3 separate regions of the Homo sapiens genome follow, and regions 2 and 3 are each reported to be linked to region 1. Evidence: microRNA targets listed by miRTarBase, many of them from high-throughput screens and not tested one by one. Region 1 holds a microRNA gene; each other region holds the end of a gene's coding sequence.
Evidence for each region. The annotated mature microRNA hsa-miR-6766-3p reads UGAUUGUCUUCCCCCACCCUCA and lies in region 1 at 887-908, shown strand. An mRNA with a match to its seed (bases 2 to 7 or 8) in the 3' UTR can be bound and repressed. Matches are read on the target gene's strand: a 7mer-m8 pairs with bases 2 to 8, a 7mer-A1 pairs with bases 2 to 7 and ends in A, and an 8mer does both.

Region 2: the mRNA of CLIP2 is a reported target of hsa-miR-6766-3p. Seed matches in the 3' UTR shown: 7mer-m8 at 2,528-2,534.
Region 3: miRTarBase lists NCMAP as a target of hsa-miR-6766-3p. The part of its 3' UTR that is shown has no 7-base or 8-base seed match.

The regions. Positions count from the first base shown.
Region 1 is chr15:89,324,650-89,327,649 of GRCh38, reverse strand. MIR6766 (microRNA 6766) reads left to right here and starts at 840; the gene lies at 840-911. POLG (DNA polymerase gamma, catalytic subunit) reads left to right here. Exons shown (of 23, transcript NM_002693.3): 7 at 301-483; 8 at 587-738; 9 at 912-1,038; 10 at 1,964-2,200.
Region 2 is chr7:74,403,524-74,406,523 of GRCh38, reverse strand. CLIP2 (CAP-Gly domain containing linker protein 2) reads right to left here. Exons shown (of 17, transcript NM_003388.5): 17 at 589-2,687. The coding sequence ends at 2,676. Among named protein-coding and RNA genes, the nearest start is that of GTF2IRD1, 49 kb to the left of the region's middle. RefSeq lists enhancers at 131-993, 994-1,858.
Region 3 is chr1:24,605,182-24,608,524 of GRCh38, forward strand. NCMAP (non-compact myelin associated protein) reads left to right here. Exons shown (of 4, transcript NM_001010980.5): 4 at 425-3,343. The coding sequence ends at 566. Among named protein-coding and RNA genes, the nearest start is that of SRRM1, 36 kb to the right of the region's middle.

The DNA of each region.
Region 1 (3,000 bases):
TGGCACAGAGTCATTACTCCACGTGTGGCAGCCATTTTCACTTTTGCCATCTATATTTCCCACATTACCCCTGAGGATGGGATGATATTGTTCCCATTTTATAGATGAAAGAACTGAGGCTCCGAGAGATGGGGTTGCTTACCCAGGGATGAGTAACAGTAGAGCTGGGATTTAATGCCGTCTGACTTTTGAGCTGTGCCATGTCAGTGGCTGGGTTGAGGCTTGCTAAACCAGCTCAGGGATTGGGCCAGTCTTGCCTCCTGTGGTCATTTATGGCAGCTCCTGGTGTTTGCCTCCAAGGTGTCCCCACCCAGTGACTCTGGCCGGCATGCTGGAGATGGGTGTCTCCTACCTGCCTGTCAACCAGAACTGGGAGCGTTACCTGGCAGAGGCACAGGGCACTTATGAGGAGCTCCAGCGGGAGATGAAGAAGTCGTTGATGGATCTGGCCAATGATGCCTGCCAGCTGCTCTCAGGAGAGAGGTAGCCAGGCCTTGGGTGGGCAGGATCTAGGCAGGGGACTGGCAGGTGGGCGGCCTAGCCTTCGGCTTAGCCTTAGCCCTGCCCTAGTGGACTGGCTCTGTAGGTACAAAGAAGACCCCTGGCTCTGGGACCTGGAGTGGGACCTGCAAGAATTTAAGCAGAAGAAAGCTAAGAAGGTGAAGAAGGAACCAGCCACAGCCAGCAAGTTGCCCATCGAGGGGGCTGGGGCCCCTGGTGATCCCATGGATCAGGAAGGTGGGGAGCATGGGTGGGAGGTAGGGTAGGGTAGGGGTTGTCTCTGGGAAGGTCCTGTGATTGAGGGGGTCCTTCGAAAGGATTGCTCCAGCCTTCTGGAGATGAGCGGGTGGGAGCAGATCTTATTGAGAGTTCCTTCTCCTGCTCCTGATTGTCTTCCCCCACCCTCACAGACCTCGGCCCCTGCAGTGAGGAGGAGGAGTTTCAACAAGATGTCATGGCCCGCGCCTGCTTGCAGAAGCTGAAGGGGACCACAGAGCTCCTGCCCAAGCGGCCCCAGCACCTTCCTGGACACCCTGGGTGAGCCCTGCCCACCCCCAGCAGTGTATCTAGAGTCTACCCTTGCTCCATTCTCAGGACAGCCCTGGTCTGGGTTCTGGCACAGAGGCATCATGCACATGTATACTTATTGACCTGCTGCCATTCAGTCACACTGTCTTCCAGTCCTATTCTCATTTGCTCACTCTGGACCGGCTCACTGGACTCATTCAGCACAGTGTTGTGAGCACCTGCTGTGCAATGGCCCGTGGCAGCCACCGGGTGTACACACTGGAGCATAGCTCCTCCTTTCCAGTAGTTCTTTTTCCTAGGAGGAGCCAGGCACGTAGACCAGCCAGTGCAGCTAGTGTCCATAGGTAGAGTTCTGACTCTGCCTCGGGAAATAAATCAAGAAGGCTTCCTTGAGAAGGTGCCCCTTCCTTTGAGCCTCATAGGGTGGCAGAGATGAGAAAAAGGGCAGCCAGGGTGAGCAGCAGGGTGCCAGCTTTGCACCTGCAAGACCCTGAGAGCAAGTGTCCTGAGTGCCTTGCTAGTCTCACCCTGGGCTCAACTCTGGTGAACAGCCTGCAAGAGAGCACCCAGAAGGACTGGTGTTTCTCTAGAGGGGTGGGGAGGGCAGATCTGCTCCCTCCTCTGGTCAGTTACCCTGGATGAAATGGAGCTTGGGAAGGAGCCCTGCCCTGGGTCAGGGTATGCTTTTGTGTCCTGGCTTCTGACTAGTCCAGTGGGACTGACTTAGTGTCTTTGCTTTTGAAATATTCTTCTAGAGGATTCCATGGGGGTCCTGGCTAAAGCATCCCAGAGGAGGGGATGGCGGCTGTAGGCTGGGGTCACCAGAAAGCCCCAGGGCTTTGGAGGGTGGGTGGGGACATTGTGAGAGAGAGAACCTTCCCCCCAACAACTGCCCTTACCATCGTGACACTGCTGTCTTCCTGCTGGGACGTAGATGGTACCGGAAGCTCTGCCCCCGGCTAGACGACCCTGCATGGACCCCGGGCCCCAGCCTCCTCAGCCTGCAGATGCGGGTCACACCTAAACTCATGGCACTTACCTGGGATGGCTTCCCTCTGCACTACTCAGAGCGTCATGGCTGGGGCTACTTGGTGCCTGGGCGGCGGGACAACCTGGCCAAGCTGCCGACAGGTACCACCCTGGAGTCAGCTGGGGTGGTCTGCCCCTACAGGTAAGGCTTAGGCCCAGGGGAGGAAGGGGCTGGAGCCTAGGGACCCCTTCCCCTGGCTGGTCAGCTCAGGCTAGTGGAAAGAGTTTGGGTTCAAGAGTCTGGGTTCAGAAGAAGGGAAAACAGGAAAAAAATTAACACACACACACACACCCTCTCTCTCTCTCTTTCTCTCTCTCTCACTCACTCACTCACTCTCTCTCTCACTCACTCACTCTCTCACTCACTCTCTCACTCACTCACTCTCTCACTCACTCTCTCACTCACTCACTCTCTCACTCTCTCACTCACTCACTCACTCACTCACTCTCTCACTCACTCTCTCACTCACTCACTCACTCTCTCTCACTCTCTCACTCACTCACTCTCTCACTCACTCACTCACTCACTCACTCTCTCACTCACTCACTCACTCTCTGGGTTCAGGTTTTTTCTTCCATGGCTACCCTTACCCTCTGGATCTCAGAGCTCTGGGAGGGAGTATGTTGAGATGTTCACAGTGGGGAGGACTAAAGGCCCTACTCTTGGGCCCAGAAGCATAGCTGCCTTCACAGGAACATGCGGAGGGCTGTTACAAGTAGCAGGGAGATGGGCTTTTAAAAAAGTGTGTGTATATAATTTGAGTGATAATTATGGGCCAAGCAGTGCTTCCCTTATTTGTTCCCCAAGGAGTCCCATGAGCTAGAATGGTTATCCCCATGTTGTAGTTGACAAAGGCTTGGTTGACTTAAGATCACAGACCCTGAGCTTTAGGCAGGCAGGTGTTGGGGAGAAACTTACAGTGGCCCAGAATTAAGAGTCCT
Region 2 (3,000 bases), not on the chromosome of region 1:
AACCTGAAAGGCGGAGGTTGAAGTGAGCAGAGATCGTGACACTGCACTCCAGCCTGGGTGACAGAGTGAAACTCCATCTTGGGGAGAAAAAAAAAATTCTCATTCTCTCTTCCAGGGGGGCAACCTCCACTTGAAAGCCTATTTGACCACAAAGTTTGCAACACGTCGTGCTGTTGATCTGATCTCCGGAAAGCCTGCTGCGGGAACCGGAATTTGCCCACTGAAGCTGGAAACCGCCTCGGACTCATCACACGTGTGTGAGCGGATCCGTTACCGTTTCCATTGACTTTTTTTGCAGGTCTACTTATCCCTCCAGCAGGTTCAAATGTGAACCCAGGACCAGCCCTCTCTGGCAGCCTTTCTGGGTCTGTCCTCTGCCTGTCCTTGCTAAGGTGCCTCTCCTGGGACAAGGACAGCCCCAGATGTCTTCAGCTCCAGCCCCTCTGAGGCCGTGCCTACCTGGGAAGGAATGAGCTGGCAGAGGGCAGGATCGGGGGCCATCTCCTGGCACCAGGGTGCCCAAGAATTGGGAGAGATCGAGAAGCCCGGGGTCCCCACGGAGAGGAGGAGACAAGCCAACTGCCGGGGTCCTGGACCTGTCACAAGCTTTATTGTCCCGAGCACAGACTCGCCACACTTCAACAATTCCACTGTGGGGAGGGGAGGGGTGAATGAAGGACCTGGGGAGGGGACATGGCTGAGCCACACCCGGGCGGCCACACGGGGCGGGCTGAGAGGCCCACGGAGGCAGAAGCTCCCAAGGAAACCGCTTCTTGGACACCCGTCACCAGGAGCCCACCTCCGGGGGCTCAGCTCCTCCCGGCACCCTGCTAGATGGACCTCTGGCTGTTAGTAGACTAATCGGTGCCCCTACCGATGGGGCAGAGCTGCCTGATTTTGCTAGAAAGAGCTGTATTTGACCCTGGGTTAGGCCACTAAAGCATCGCTTCTAGACGGCTGTTAATAGAACTGCATGCGAGAGCTACCGAAAGCCAACAGGGACTGGGAGGGGGGCCGGGGGGACTGACTGTGACTCCCCGATGGGCTGCATTTGGGCAGGAACGTGAGCGCCACCTACCTGTACCAGGTGGCACTCATGAGGGCGATCTGGGCCGTTCCTATGAATTGCACACGTGTCCTGTGCGTTACGGGAAAGCCGGGATGGGGCATCGGGCTTCTCCCTCTGGTCCACTGATGGGGGAGGCCTCACAGGAAAACACTCCCTGAGCTGCCGGAGGGTGGGGCAGGGACCCCTGTGCTGATGCCGGGGTGCAAAGCTGTAAGCAACCTGTTGGTCCCCCAGCGGCGAGGTGGAGGCTGCAGGGCCAAGGCTGGCTTTTTCCACCACGCACAGGCCTGGGATAACTTAGCAGGCTTGAGGGGAAGATGGCAGGGCGAGGGGTTGGGGGAGCGCAGTTAGATTTCTCTTACCCCCAGCCCCCGTTAGGAGATGGGGCTGGAGACGCTCTGTGCAGGTGCCTGGCAAGACCAGGAAGGGATGCTCCATGTGGCAAACACACCCCTGAATGCCTGGCTGCGTGTACTTGGGTGTGTATACGCACCTCTAGGCTGTAGGAACGTTTGCAGTATCTGTAGGCACGGTCCTGCCAGGCCTGGGTCTCAGTCCCAGAAACCAAGTATGTGTCTCTGTGTGGCCTGAGCGTGGTTCACAGCAAACGCCGCCACCCACACGGTCATGCGTGCACACGTGGTCCCTCTGTGTGTGTGTGAACGTGGTGTGTACATAAGGACCCACTTAGCTGCATCTCCAGGTGGATGCAGATATTTTGGAACATCTGGTCAACCCCAGGGGAAACCGTATTACTGACCTTTGTCAAACCTGCCTAGAGCCTCCACTCTGAGCTGCCTCTGCCCTGGGCTCCGAGCCAGGGTTTGCCCAAGGTCACGGTGGGAGGTGAGGAGAGGGGTTTCCAAACCTTCATAATACTGTGTCTTTGGCCTTGGTGACATCTTCGGCCAGCAGCTTAGAGGTGTGTGTGTGTTGGTGTTGGTGGGCAGCGGGAGAAGGATCCCGTTCCCCTGCCCTCCGCCCCCGCCAACACCTTGAACCTGGGGGCCTCGCTGGGCAGGCAGGCTGGCTGAGGGGAGCTTGTACTACTGTTTGAAGAAGGTTCAGAAGGTGGGGACAAGAAGCCCTGGCGACTGCCTTGGCCTGGAAGTGGCTTCGGAAAAGGGGCCCCCACTTGGCTCTTAAAGACTGGATGCTCCCCCTTGGTGTCTGCATGGATAAACTTACCCCCTCCCCAGCCCCCGCCGGCCCCTCTGGGGAGACCCGAGGGAGAATGGGCGGAAAAAGAGGACAGGGCCGCTAAGATGGTCCTCAGGGCAGCTCCTTCTGGACAGAGGGGCCTGGCCGGATCCCCTCTGCCTCCACTGACAAACTCCAGAAGCTGCCGGGTGTCCAGGCTGAAGGTCCCCGGGTCAGGCCGGGGCTGTACCGTTCACACTCTCTGTAGAAGGCTGGGCTTGAGGAAGCGTCCTGGTCTGGCGAGGGATCGGGGTGGGGGATTGTCCGCGGCGGTGAGTACGTTATTGTTACAAACACTGTTTTGTCTCCAAAGTGACAGTCCCGGCTCCTGCCTGGAGGAGGTACTGCCGGGCAGCCGCGTGGGGCTCTGGTGTGGACTGGGCTGCTCCACAGTATCCCCTCAGGATCAGTGCTTGTCCTAGAGAGAGTAAAGGGCATCATCAGCAAGGGTCTCAGAGAGCCTGGAGGGCCAGGCGGCCAGAGGGGAGTCAGGGAGGAAAGGAGTTGGGGCCGGGTGGGGGAGGAGCATAGAGCGAACTGCATGTGCCAAGGCCCTGAGGCAGGAAGTGTCTCCCTGCTGTGTGTTTGTGGCTGTGTGAGACAGCAGGTGGGGTGGGAGGTGCTGATGGGAAGCGGAGCCGAGGGGAAGAAGCAGGTTTTTTGTTTGTTTGTGTGTTTGTTTGTTTTAAGACGGAGTCTTGCTCTGTCGCCAGGCTGGAGTGCAGTGGTCT
Region 3 (3,343 bases), not on the chromosome of region 1:
AAGCCAAGATAAATGTTTTCAGTACATTCTCTTTTCAATTATGTAAAAAGTTCTTAAATATTTCTAGCAATAAACTTAGCAAGCATAATGAGGCTGGAAAATGTAATACATGCTACAACTTTGAACATAAAAAATGTAATATCTTTATTTTTATCTTTTATATAGCCACCTCTGACATCTTACTCATTCCTTAATAGAAACAAATAAAATTAAATATCTGATCTAAGTGAAAAAATTGAAGGGCAGACTAGCTGATGCCTAAGGTCACTTCCAGTTGTAAAATTCTGTGGTGGCAAGTAAGCAATGTGATTTAATGTCTACATTAATCTACATTAATCTGTTGGCCAGAACTGTAGTCGCAGAGCCCATTCCCCGCGGCATACCAGGGGAAAGACTCAACCATGTGCACATTATCTCCCTACAGGAAAATGAGGACGAGGCGGGAACTAGAGCCCAAGGGCCCCAAGCCAACCGCCCCTTCTGCCGTGGGCCCAAACAGCAACGGCAGCCAACACCCAGCAACTGTGACCTTCAGTCCTGTTGACGTCCAGGTGGAGACGCGATGACCTCTACCCTGGCGCTATCTCCACCACTGTCCAAAGAGCCTCTCCAGAGTCAAGACCCAGAGGCACACTCTCTGGCAGCTTCACAATGAGCTTCTTCTGGTCAGGTCGACAGAGACATCTTTGACGCAATCTCTGATGCTTCCAGCAATCCTCAACCTTGTCTGCCCTGCCCTACCCCAACTGTGTCCACATCCCTGCCGCCACCCCACCAAAAAGCTGCAGAACATTCTTTTGTCATCTGATGAGGTAGAGCTATGTTGGGAATCCACCAATGTGGGCTTGGCTTTCCCCCACACTGTAGTTAGACAGATAGACAGATAGCCCAGGAGCCAGGTGTCAGGGAGCACTGCTGAGAGTATCACAATAGGATCTGTCACGGGGTTCATATCAGATGAAGCGCCGTATCCACTGCTTCACAGAGCAAAACATTCAATCCCATAACCAGGCACAGGGGAACTAACTTGGACTAACTAACCAGAAAACCTTGTTAACGTATAACTTGTTCCAGTACTACATCTCTGCCTGCTGGCTCATGACAATTGCTCAGCACATTTTCCCCTCTTGAAGAAAGGTTGCAAGAAGAACTAAATTATCCTCAAAAGATTTCTGCTTCATTAGTAAAGAGTCAGTGATGGAATAGGGTGACTCTGCAGAATAGTGGCCTCTAGGGTAGGAGCTTGTTGTGTTGTCCGTGGGCCTGGAATGATCCTGGTGGCTGATCAGGGTCCTTCTCCCACTCTGGGCTGTATCAACCCTGACGGTCTTGGTCTTTGGCTCCCCTTTATCTGGATTCTGAGCACGCTGACTGTCCTGTTAATGCCTTCCCTCCAAGGACCAGTATTTGGAGATTAATTAGATTACAACTCTATCTATGTTACCTTTGTCCTTCCTGGTCACCTTGCAGATTCAAGACATGTTCAAAGCAACACATTCACAACCCATTTCTATTCTATAGCAACCTCGTCTGTGACTCCTTAGCCTGGAGAACAATCTACCAAGAAGAGAAAGTATCTGGAATTAAGAAGTCCTACCATCCAAGCCCTACTTCCTGGTTGTGTGGCCTTGGAAAAGTGACTCAACCTCTTTATATTCAGTTTCCTAACCATGAAGTGGAAATGATAACACCTGCCTCATTGGGGCACTATAACAAGTGAAGGACTTAGGAAAACATCTGGAGTATAGCGCCTGGCACCCAGGAGATGCTTAATAAATGGGAACCAGGATTCTTTTTCTTTTCTTTTTTCTTTTCTTTTTTTTTTTTTTTTGAGACAGAGCCTCAATCTGTCACCTGGGCTGGAGTGCAGTGGCACGCTCACAGCTCGCTGCAGCCTTGAACTCCTGGGCTCAAGGGATGCTCCCTCCTCAGCCTCCAGAGTAGCTGGGACTACAGGTATGTGTCACCTCACCAGGCTAATTTTTTTATTTTTTATTTTTGTAGAGATGGGGTCTCGCTGTGTTGCCCAGGCTGGTCTTGAACCCCTGGCCTCAAGTGATCCTTCTGCTTTGGCCTCCCAAAGTGCTGGGATTACAGGCATGGACTATGGTGCCCAGCCTAGGAGCCAACATTATTATTATTATAGGCTTTTTTTTCAATTGCAAGATAGACATTTCTTCACATTTTAATGATTCTGAAATCAGAACATATCTTGCAATTGATGGGTTCATTAATATAATTGTAGTTCTTTACTTCCTCTCAAAAACTTGTGATCTTATAATTGATGGCATCTTGGAAACAAGGTAATAAATCTCTATTCTGTTAAAGAAAGTGACACACTTTGACATTTAACCTCAAATTTTAGGAGTCTCTCCCTCTTGGGGTCAGAAATCCCTTCTGAGGCCAGGTGTCGTGGCTCATGCCTGTAATCCCAGCACTTTGGGAGGCTGAGGCAGGCGGGTCACTTGAGGTCAGGAGTTTGAGACCAGCCTGGCCAACATGGCAAAACCCTGTCTCTACTAATAATACAAAATTTAGCTGGGCATGGTGGCATGCACCTGTAATCCCACTACTAGGGAGGCTGTGGCATGAGAATCACTTGAACCTGGAAGGCAGAGGTTGCAGTGAGCCAAGATCGTGCCACTGCACTCCAGCCTGGGCAACAGAGTGAAACTGCATCTCAAAAAAAGAAAAATCCATTATGAGGGGAAATCAAGAGTCAGGGAGGTAAGAGGTCTTACCCAGGGTCACACAGCTCATGATATCCCACTGTAAAAATACTCTGTGGAATAGCTCTGGAGAAATACTGGCACATTCTTCCTCTCTGGTCATTATTTCTTCCTACTGTGTTTAAATATCCACCAAGTGTCAAGGACTTTGTAAGATGCTTTCACATAAATTATCTCATAGGATTAAATTTTCCCAAAAACCTGGGGAGGAATTATTTTTTCCAAAACAGATGATAATTTCTGATTCAAAGAGAAAGAAAACAAAGTACTTTTCCAAAGTCACACAGCTAGTAAGTCACAAAGACAAGACTCAAAACCAGGTCTCTTGACTCCAAAGTCTGTCTTTTTTGTGAAGTCACACTCCTCTGCTGGCCCAGCTCAAAGCAGCACAGATTCTTTATGGGCTGAACAAGGGGAGTACGGGTTTGTCCATGTGTTTGAGTAGAGATCAGGGTTCTGGCTTCCAGGCTGAAGGTGAGGGAAAAGCCACTTCTAACTCCTTTGGGCATCCATGCTCACGGCCAAAAGAGCCCCTTCTCAACACATCCAAGTGCTAAGGATTCCTGCTTCATTCAAGCTACTACTTAGGCCCAAGGAGCAAGGGGTAGAATGGC